Homo sapiens: one gene and its partner. The protein of the gene in region 1 purifies or fractionates together with the protein of each later gene. This does not show direct contact. Each region holds a gene or a part of one and is shown in the gene's direction. Other genes may lie near its edges.

What was found. The genes of interacting proteins can lie anywhere in the genome.
Region 2: the proteins of SSTR3 (region 1) and PALS1 purify together in Homo sapiens (pull-down; one study listed by IntAct). This does not show direct contact.

What each region holds. Positions count from the first base shown.
Region 1 is NC_000022.11:37,202,794-37,207,523, reverse strand, and holds the end of SSTR3 (somatostatin receptor type 3), read left to right. Parts: coding exon 1-977; 3' UTR 978-3,287; downstream 3,288-4,730.
Region 2 is NC_000014.9:67,327,506-67,331,934, forward strand, and holds part of PALS1 (protein PALS1), read left to right. Parts: intron 1-4,429. UniProt on the Homo sapiens protein: Plays a role in tight junction biogenesis and in the establishment of cell polarity in epithelial cells.

The sequences.
Region 1 (4,730 bases):
TGCTGGGGCTGCCCTTCCTGGCCGCCCAGAACGCCCTGTCCTACTGGCCCTTCGGCTCCCTCATGTGCCGCCTGGTCATGGCGGTGGATGGCATCAACCAGTTCACCAGCATATTCTGCCTGACTGTCATGAGCGTGGACCGCTACCTGGCCGTGGTACATCCCACCCGCTCGGCCCGCTGGCGCACAGCTCCGGTGGCCCGCACGGTCAGCGCGGCTGTGTGGGTGGCCTCAGCCGTGGTGGTGCTGCCCGTGGTGGTCTTCTCGGGAGTGCCCCGCGGCATGAGCACCTGCCACATGCAGTGGCCCGAGCCGGCGGCGGCCTGGCGAGCCGGCTTCATCATCTACACGGCCGCACTGGGCTTCTTCGGGCCGCTGCTGGTCATCTGCCTCTGCTACCTGCTCATCGTGGTGAAGGTGCGCTCAGCTGGGCGCCGGGTGTGGGCACCCTCGTGCCAGCGGCGGCGGCGCTCCGAACGCAGGGTCACGCGCATGGTGGTGGCCGTGGTGGCGCTCTTCGTGCTCTGCTGGATGCCCTTCTACGTGCTCAACATCGTCAACGTGGTGTGCCCACTGCCCGAGGAGCCTGCCTTCTTTGGGCTCTACTTCCTGGTGGTGGCGCTGCCCTATGCCAACAGCTGTGCCAACCCCATCCTTTATGGCTTCCTCTCCTACCGCTTCAAGCAGGGCTTCCGCAGGGTCCTGCTGCGGCCCTCCCGCCGTGTGCGCAGCCAGGAGCCCACTGTGGGGCCCCCGGAGAAGACTGAGGAGGAGGATGAGGAGGAGGAGGATGGGGAGGAGAGCAGGGAGGGGGGCAAGGGGAAGGAGATGAACGGCCGGGTCAGCCAGATCACGCAGCCTGGCACCAGCGGGCAGGAGCGGCCGCCCAGCAGAGTGGCCAGCAAGGAGCAGCAGCTCCTACCCCAAGAGGCTTCCACTGGGGAGAAGTCCAGCACGATGCGCATCAGCTACCTGTAGGGGCCTGGGGAAAGCCAGGATGGCCCGAGGAAGAGGCAGAAGCCGTGGGTGTGCCTAGGGCCTACTTCCCAAGGTGCCACAGGCCCATGATGGGATGTTGAGGGGCCTGGACTTTGATGCTATTGCTGCCAGGTCTTGCTGTGTGACCTTGGGTAGGTTGCTTCTACTCTCTGGGCCTTGTTTTCTCCTCTGTGACTCAGGGATAGGAGTCATCAGCCTGGATGAGCTATGTCAGATGAGAGGTTTGGAGGGCACTGTTGCTGGGCTGACCTGGCTGAGCAGGCAAAAGGTGGGTGCAGACTGGCCTCCCCCCAGGGATGGAGTGTCTTGGGGCATCAACTAGAATCTTGGCCCTCAGAGGGATAAACCAAGGCCAGGATTTCTTGGGCTCAGAGTCAGGAACACAGGAGCTGCTGGGGGCTGGGCTGGAAACCTAAACAGAAGAAAGCCTAACCCGGTGGGAGGAGTGGGGCAGAAATGGTCAGGCCCCAGATCAGCTCCCTCCCCTCGACTGTGAGGCCTTGGACCAGCTCTGCTCCTCTCTAGGCCTCAGGCTTCACCTGGGTAAAACCCAACAACCTCTACACCCTTTTGGCCCAGGCAGTCAATGCTGGAGGTCCTGTGCTCCTGGACGGGAAGAGCAGGTGAATTTCCTGCTCATGGAAGCGAATGAAGTCCAGCTTCAGGGTCTCTCACTGCCTGGGCTTTTGCAAGGCCCTGCATCTACTTTTGTACTTGTCATTTTGTATTCGTTTTCTTAAAGAGGGACCTCGAACTGCATAAGCTTAGGCCACCCAAAGCCTGGCTCTGCCCCTGCTGAGGTCAGCCACCCAATCCCCAAGGAAGCTCATGTTGGGTCTTATGGCTGGAGTAGGGGCCCCCGGGGGTTCCCAGGTCTTTTGAGGGCTTCCAGGCACCTCCTTGTAGGAAGGGCCATCCCTGTTCCTCTCCTTGTGACCCATATTCTCCCTTCCTGGAGACCGAGACAGGGACCCAGCCCATGAGGACTGGCATGGAAAGGCAGAGTGTCTGAAGAGCGCTGTGAGGAGAAGGAAGAGGAAGGGAGAAGAGGAAGAGGAAGGAGAAGGAAGAGGAAGACAAGGGGGAAAGGGGAGGATGAGGAGGGGGAAGGAGAAGTACAGATCTGTTTCCTGGAGCCGTCTTTGGCCCCCCTGGGCTGAGCTCAGTGGTAGCATCTGTGAACCTGAGTTGCCGACAACAGCCCCACCCAACCAGTACTGAGGGAAGGACACGATCAGGGTGGAACAGCCAGGGTGCAATGGCAAATGCACAGAGTACAGACAGGCACAGGGCCTGCGTCCCTGAGGGGCCTCAGAGTGCTGCCAAGAGGGCTCAGGCCTTAATAAAGCCCTAGGGTGGAGCTGGCTACCAGGGACATTGGGAGGACTGGGGAGCTCCCTCCCCATGCTCTATCATCCTGGAGACTACAGGTCGGGAGGCCCAGGGAAGACAAGAAGAGGCTGAAGTGGGACTGTGGAGGGGGACCATGGGGAGCAGCCACCATCCAAGGCTGGGCCTAGACTCCCTCCCAGAGATGGTCCCTCAGAGCTGTGGTGAGGCTGGCCCTGGGAGGGTGAGACCCCCGGTGAAATCCTTCCGCTTCCCCACCCCTTGCAGAGGGCAGGGGTCCTCAGGGAAAGCACAGGAACCAGACTTTTGGAGACTTGGATCTTCAGCACACCTCAGGGTCCTGGGCTGGCATTGGCCTTCCGGGCCTCAATTTCCCCATCAACAAATGGAGATGAATCCCAGCTTGGCTGCCTCCTGGGATCTAACGAGAAAATGAGTCATGTGAGGTAACTTCCAGGCTCACTGCAATGGGTACGGTGGGGTGTATCAGATTATAAAGTGGGGGTGCCCTCCTCACCCCCAGGCTTGGCCTATACCCCCCTCTCCATCAAGTGGCCTCTCTGTGTCTGTCCTTTGGGGTGAGGACACTGTAGGCCATGAGAAATGGGCAGTTGGGGGGTCAGAGGCCAAGGGTTAGGGAGGCAGGGCTTGGGGAGAGTGTGGGACCATCAGAAGAGAAGGAAGTTTACAAAACCACATTTTGTGTGGAGATGGAGGCTGGAGGCCCGGCCCTGGGACTTGGTCTGGGGTTTCTTGAGGAAGATCTGAGGGTCCAAGGGAGGAAGGATGCCCTGGCCTTCTGGCCTTCTCTGGCTGATCCTGCCTTCTTGCTGCCTAGGACAGGAGAGTAATGTCCTAGAATGGTCCCTGGGAGGCCAGTTAGGAAACCCTTTGCTGCTTCTGTCTCTAGCTCTTGTCAATAAAGACGGTGACACCTGATAACAGCTGTGGCCTGGGCCAATTTCTCCGCCAGACACTGTGTCCTGATGGGTGTGAATGTGTAGGTGTGTGTGGGCTCCGTGCACCCTGGCCTGTTCGGGTGTGACCTCCCAGAGTCCAGGTCCTTCAGGGAACATGGAAGATACCCTTGATGGGGCTGAGCCCACATCCTTATAGACCTTGATCCAAAAGCAGTAGATGTCCTTTCTCCCTATTATCCAAATAGCAGATTTCAGGGAAGAAAGTGGATTGGCTCCAACTAGGTCACATGATGGTCCCTTGGGCCAATCACCAAAGACGTGGTGATAGGGTGCCATGGTTGGCCAGGTGCGGGTCATGTGCCTACATTTCCAGCCAGAGAGAAGGTAGGGCACTGTGATGGACACTCTGGCCTGGCCTGTGGGGCAGGGGTGGGTCAGGGACAGCCTACTAATGGCTAGGGGAGGTGGGCCAGGCACCAGCAACCAACAACATGCGGGTCTGGGTGTGTGTGGGGTTTGCTGTGTGTGGCTGCCTTTGCTGGGTGTGATATTGTGTGTCCAGGTTTGTGTGAGCCCAGTGCAGGGTGCACAGTAGGTGGTCGGGACATCTTAGCTGCGTCCGTGAGTGAATGGGCACTGAGGTGTGACATGCGGCCGGTGTGCAAGTGGTGGGAGTGGAGGAACTGCTGGGGCCCCAGCGTTGGGTGGGAGTGGCTGCCTGGGTAGGGTCCCTCACCTAGCCCCGGCAGCCCTTGCTTCCCCACCACACTGGGTGTCCCCGCCTGTGCATGCTCACGTGCAGCCTGTGTGTGCATGTGCTTGTCCCCCCACACACGTGTGTCTGGCAGCCTTGCGTTCCCCGGGCCTGGCAGTGCTGCCGTGGCCTTTCTTAGGAGTATCTGGAATGAATGAACAAAGGGGGCCACTGCATGTCACAACTGCAGGGGGTACTGTACACGCTGTTCCTGTAACCTCCTGTGAAGCTACAGCATGGTGCCTCTGAATAAATGAGTGATAAGGGGCAGGGGTACTGAAGGAGCTTGTATGGGGTTGGGGCTAGAATCTGTGGGTTAGGGGAGCCATTGGGGCTGTAGGGTGAGGGGAGGCTCTGCAGTTGTGAGCAGGAGCAGGGAGGGAGGAGTGATGATAACGCACCTTGCCCACTCCTCTCCTCCTCCTCCAGCCATTGAAGTTGCTCAGACCAGAGGCTTTACCTTGAACTTGTCTCTCCGAGGCGGTTGCCAGGCAACAGCCCTTGGCCACCAGGCTCTGGACCAGGACTTCCTGCATCAGCATCAGCATTATCAGAGGGGAGCTGGGAACCCGCAGGGCCTGGGGCAGGAAAGACCACGGCCCCCAGATCTTTGGGATCCTCTTTACCTAGAAGCGATGGGGCAGGTGAGGCCACTGACCCATGGGAGTTGACAGCTGGACTCCACAGGACTCCACACAGAAGAAAACA
Region 2 (4,429 bases), on another chromosome or scaffold:
ATACTTTAAGTTCTAGGGTACATGTGCACAACATGCAGGTTTGTTACGTATGTATACATGTGCCATGTTGGTGTGCTGCACCCGTTAACTCGTCATTTACATTAGGTATATCTCCTAATGCTATCCCTCCCCTCTCCCCCCACCCCACAACAGGCCCCAGTGTGTGATGTTCCCCACCCTGTGTCCTGGTGTTCTCATTGTTCAGTTCCCACTTATGAGTGAGAACATGCAGTGTTTGGTTTTCTGTCCTTGTGATAGTTTTCTCAGAATGATGGTTTCCAGCTTCATCCATGTCCCTACAAAAGACATGAACTCATCCTTTTTTTGGCTGCATAGTATTCCATGGTGTATATGTGCCACATTTTCTTAATCCAGTCTATCATTGATTTGGGTTGGTTCCAAGTCTTTGCTATCGTAAATAGTGCTGCAGTCAATGTACGTGTGCATGTGTCTTTATAGCAGCATGATTTATAATCCTTTGGGTATATACCCAGTAATGGGATGGCTGGGTCAAATGGTATTTCTAGTTCTAGATCCTTGAGGAATCACCACACTGTCTTCCACAATGGTTGAACTAGTTTACGGTCCCACCAACAGTGTAAAAGTGTTCCTATTTCTCCACATCCTCTCCAGCACCTGTTGTTTCCGACTTTTTAATGATCGCCATTCTAACTGGTGTGAGATGGTATCTCATTGTGGTTTTGATTTGCATTTCTCTGATGGCCAGTGATGATGAGCATTTTTTCATGTGTCTGTTGGCTGCATGAATGTCTTCTTTTGAGAAGTGTCTGTTCATATCCTTTGCCCACTTTTTGATGGGATTGTTTGATTTTTTCTTGGAAATTTGTTTAAGTTCTTTGTAGATTCTGGATATTAGCCCTTTGTCAGATGGGTAGATGGTAAAAATTTTCTCCCATTCTGTAGGTTGCCTATTCACTCTGATGGTAGTTTCTTTTGCTGTGCAGAAGCTCTTTAATTAGATCCCATTTGTCAATTTTGAGTTTTGTTGCCATTGCTTTTGGTGTTTTAGTCATGAAGTCCTTGCCCATGCCTATGTCCTGAATGGTATTGCCTAGGTTTTCTTCTAGGGTTTTTCTGGTTTTAGGTCTAACATTTAAGTCTTTAATCCATCTTGAATTAACTTTTGTATAAGGTGTAAGGAAGGGATCCAGTTTCAGCTTTCTACATATGGCTAGCCAGTTTTCCCAGCACCATTTATTAAATAGGGCATCCTTTCCCCATTTCTTCTTTTTGTCAGGTTTGTCAAAGATCAGATGGTTGTAGATGTGTGGTATTATTTCTGAGGGCTCTGTTCTGTTCCATTGGTCTGTATCTCTGTTTTGGTACCAGTAGCATGCTGTTTTGGTTACTGTAGCCTTGTAGTATAGTTTGAAGTTGGATAGGGTGATGCCTTCAGCTTTATTCTTTTGGCTTAGGGTTGTCTTGGCAATGCAGGCTCTTTTTTGGTTCCATATGAACTTTAAAGTAGTTTTTTCCAATTCTGTGAAGAAAGTCATTGGTAGCTTGATGGGGATGGCATTGAATCTATAAATTACCTTGGGCAGTATGGCCATTTTCACAATATTGATTCTTCCCATCCATGAGCATGGAATGTTCTTCCATTTGTTTGGTCCTCTTTTACTTGGTTGAGCAGTGGTTTGTAGTTCTCCTTGAAGAGGTCCTTCACATCCCTTGTAAGTTGGATTCCTAGGTATTTTATTCTCTTTGTAGCAATTGTGAATGGGAGTTCACTCATGATTTGGCTCTCTCTTTGTCTGTTATTGATGTATAGGAATGCTTGTGATTTCTGCACATTGATTTTGTATCCTGAGACTTTGCTGAAGTTGCTTATCAGCTTAAGGAGATTTTGGGCTGAGACGATGGAGTTTTCTACATGTACAATCATGTCATCTGCAAACAGGGATAATTCGACTTCCTCTTTTCCTAATTGAATACCCTTTATTTCTTTCTCCTGCCTGATTGCCCTGGCCAGAACTTCCAACACTGTGTTGAATAGGAGTGGTGAGAGAGGGCATCCCTGTCTTGCGCCAGTTTTCAAAGGGAATGCTTCCAGTTTTTGTCCATTCAGTATGATATTGGCTGTGGGTTTGTCATAAATAGCTCTTATTATTTTGAGATACGGCGGACGCATCACTTGAGGCCAGGAGTTCGAGACCAGCCTGGGCAACATAGTGAAATCCTGTCTCTACTAAAAATACAAAAAACATTAGCCAGGCATGGTGGTGCACGCCTGTGGTACTGGCTACTGAAGAGGCCGAGTTCGTGCTACTGCACTCCAGCCTGGGCAACACAGCAAGACTTGGTCTCAAAAATAAATAAATAAATAAATAAATAAATAAATAAATAAATAAATAGATATAGAAACTAAGAAGATGATGGTGTTACTCACTGGATGCAAAATGTAACCAACCAGTTATGTAATTGTACTCTGAATCTGTTCTTCTAGTATTGTGAAAGAATGGTATTGGCATAAAGATGTGATTTTTTTCTTGTATGTATTGTTAAAGTCACAGAAAATCATCTATATTGTGGTAAGAGAGAATATATGCCAGACAAATGCTCTGCTGTCTGTCAGAAAGAGGAATAAAGACACAATCTGGAACCAGGAAATAAATAATAATAATAATAATTATTATTATTATTATCAAAAGGAATAATCAGACACTTTAGCAAAAGAAATAAGTTGGAGGGCATTTGTCTTTATTGTCTCTTTTCTATTTAATTCATTTCTTTTTATGCTTTCTTTGACTATAATTTGCACTTGCTTTAGTTTCTCAAGATGAATGCTTAATTTTTAAACTCTTCTTTTCAAATGTAGGCATTTGAAATTATAAATTTCCCTCGAAACAGTTCTTTAGTTGCATCCCGTAAGTTTTGGCATTGTATTTTTGTTACCATTTTGTTAGAAGTATTTTCTAATTTCCCTTCATTTTTTTTTTTTTTTTTTTTGAGATGGGGTTTCGCTCTTGTTGCCCAGGCTGGAGTGCAGTGGCACTATCTCTGCTCACTGCAACCTCTGCCTCCCGGGTTCAAGCAATTCTCTTGCCTCAGCCTCCCGAGTAGCTGGGATTATAGGCATGCACCACCACGCCCAGCTAATTTTGTATTTTTAGTAGAGATGGGGTTTCTCCATGTTGGTCAGGCTGGTCCCAAACTCCCGACCTCAGGTGATCCACCTGCCTCAGCCTTCCAAAGTGCTGGGATTATGGGCCTGAGCCCCCGGCACCCCGCTTCCTTGTTTTTCTCTTTAACACATGAGTTATTTAGAAGTATGTTATATAGTTTCCACCTATTTGGAGATGTGAAAAAGATTTTAACTGATTTATAATTCCAGGTGGTCAGACCCTGAAAGATGTCAGTCTTTTCAAATTTGTTGAGCCTTATTTTATGGCCCAACATCTGTTCTTTCTTGGTGAATGTTCTGTGCACACCTGTTAGGATGTGTATTCCACAGTTTTTGGTGTAGAGGATGGTGTATCTGATTGTATTTATTCTACTTAAGTTTTTTTCTCCTGTGATATTTCTTTCTTTTTTTTGAGACAGAGTCTCACTCTGTCGCCCAGGCTGGAGTGCAGTGGCACAATCTTGGTTCACTGCAACCTCTGCTTCCTGGGTTTAAGTGATTCTCATGCCTCAGCCTCCCAAGTAGCTGGGATTACAGATGTGCACCATCACGCCTGGCTATTTTTTGTATTTTTAATAGAGACGGGGTTTTGCCCTGTTGGCCAGGCTGGTCTCAAGCTCCCGGCCCCATGTGATCCACCTACCTTGGCCTCCCAAAGTGCTGAGATTACAGGCGGGGGAGCCCCTGCGCTGGTATTGGTATTTCTAATAGTGCTTTATTACTCAATGATAGAAGTGCTGAAGTAAAACAGATTTTCAATTTTAACTCTATAAAATTGTGCTAAGAAAATGATGGCGTTACAAAATGTAACCAACCGGTTATCTAGTTGCATTCTGAATCTCTGAATCTGTTCTGCTAGTATGAAGGCTTGAGAGTGGCTATCTAGCAGTATGAACTTATTGTCAGTTTTGCCTAGTTCAGCTAAAAATTTTGAGCTAAAACATTTTGTTTCATCTTAGTCGTGGATTGTAATTTGAAAGAGAACTTCAGACATGAAGTACTAAATAAGTGATATAAGCCATTTTGGCACAAAATGGAATAACAATGCCTTAAATTTGATAAAAACTAGGTGGATTCGGGCTTTATCATTTTCATTTCAACTCCAATACCACAAAGTTTCAGTTCTCTGTGGAGTCCTAGAATGTTCTTCCAATAATCTTGAGCTTACGGTAGACATAAGTTTTAGCAAAAATGTCAGTGTGTTCAGTTACAGTGGTGAAGTAGATTCCCTGCTGGGAACAAAGGATTCTGTGTGCCATATTCAGATGTACAACATTCCAGAAT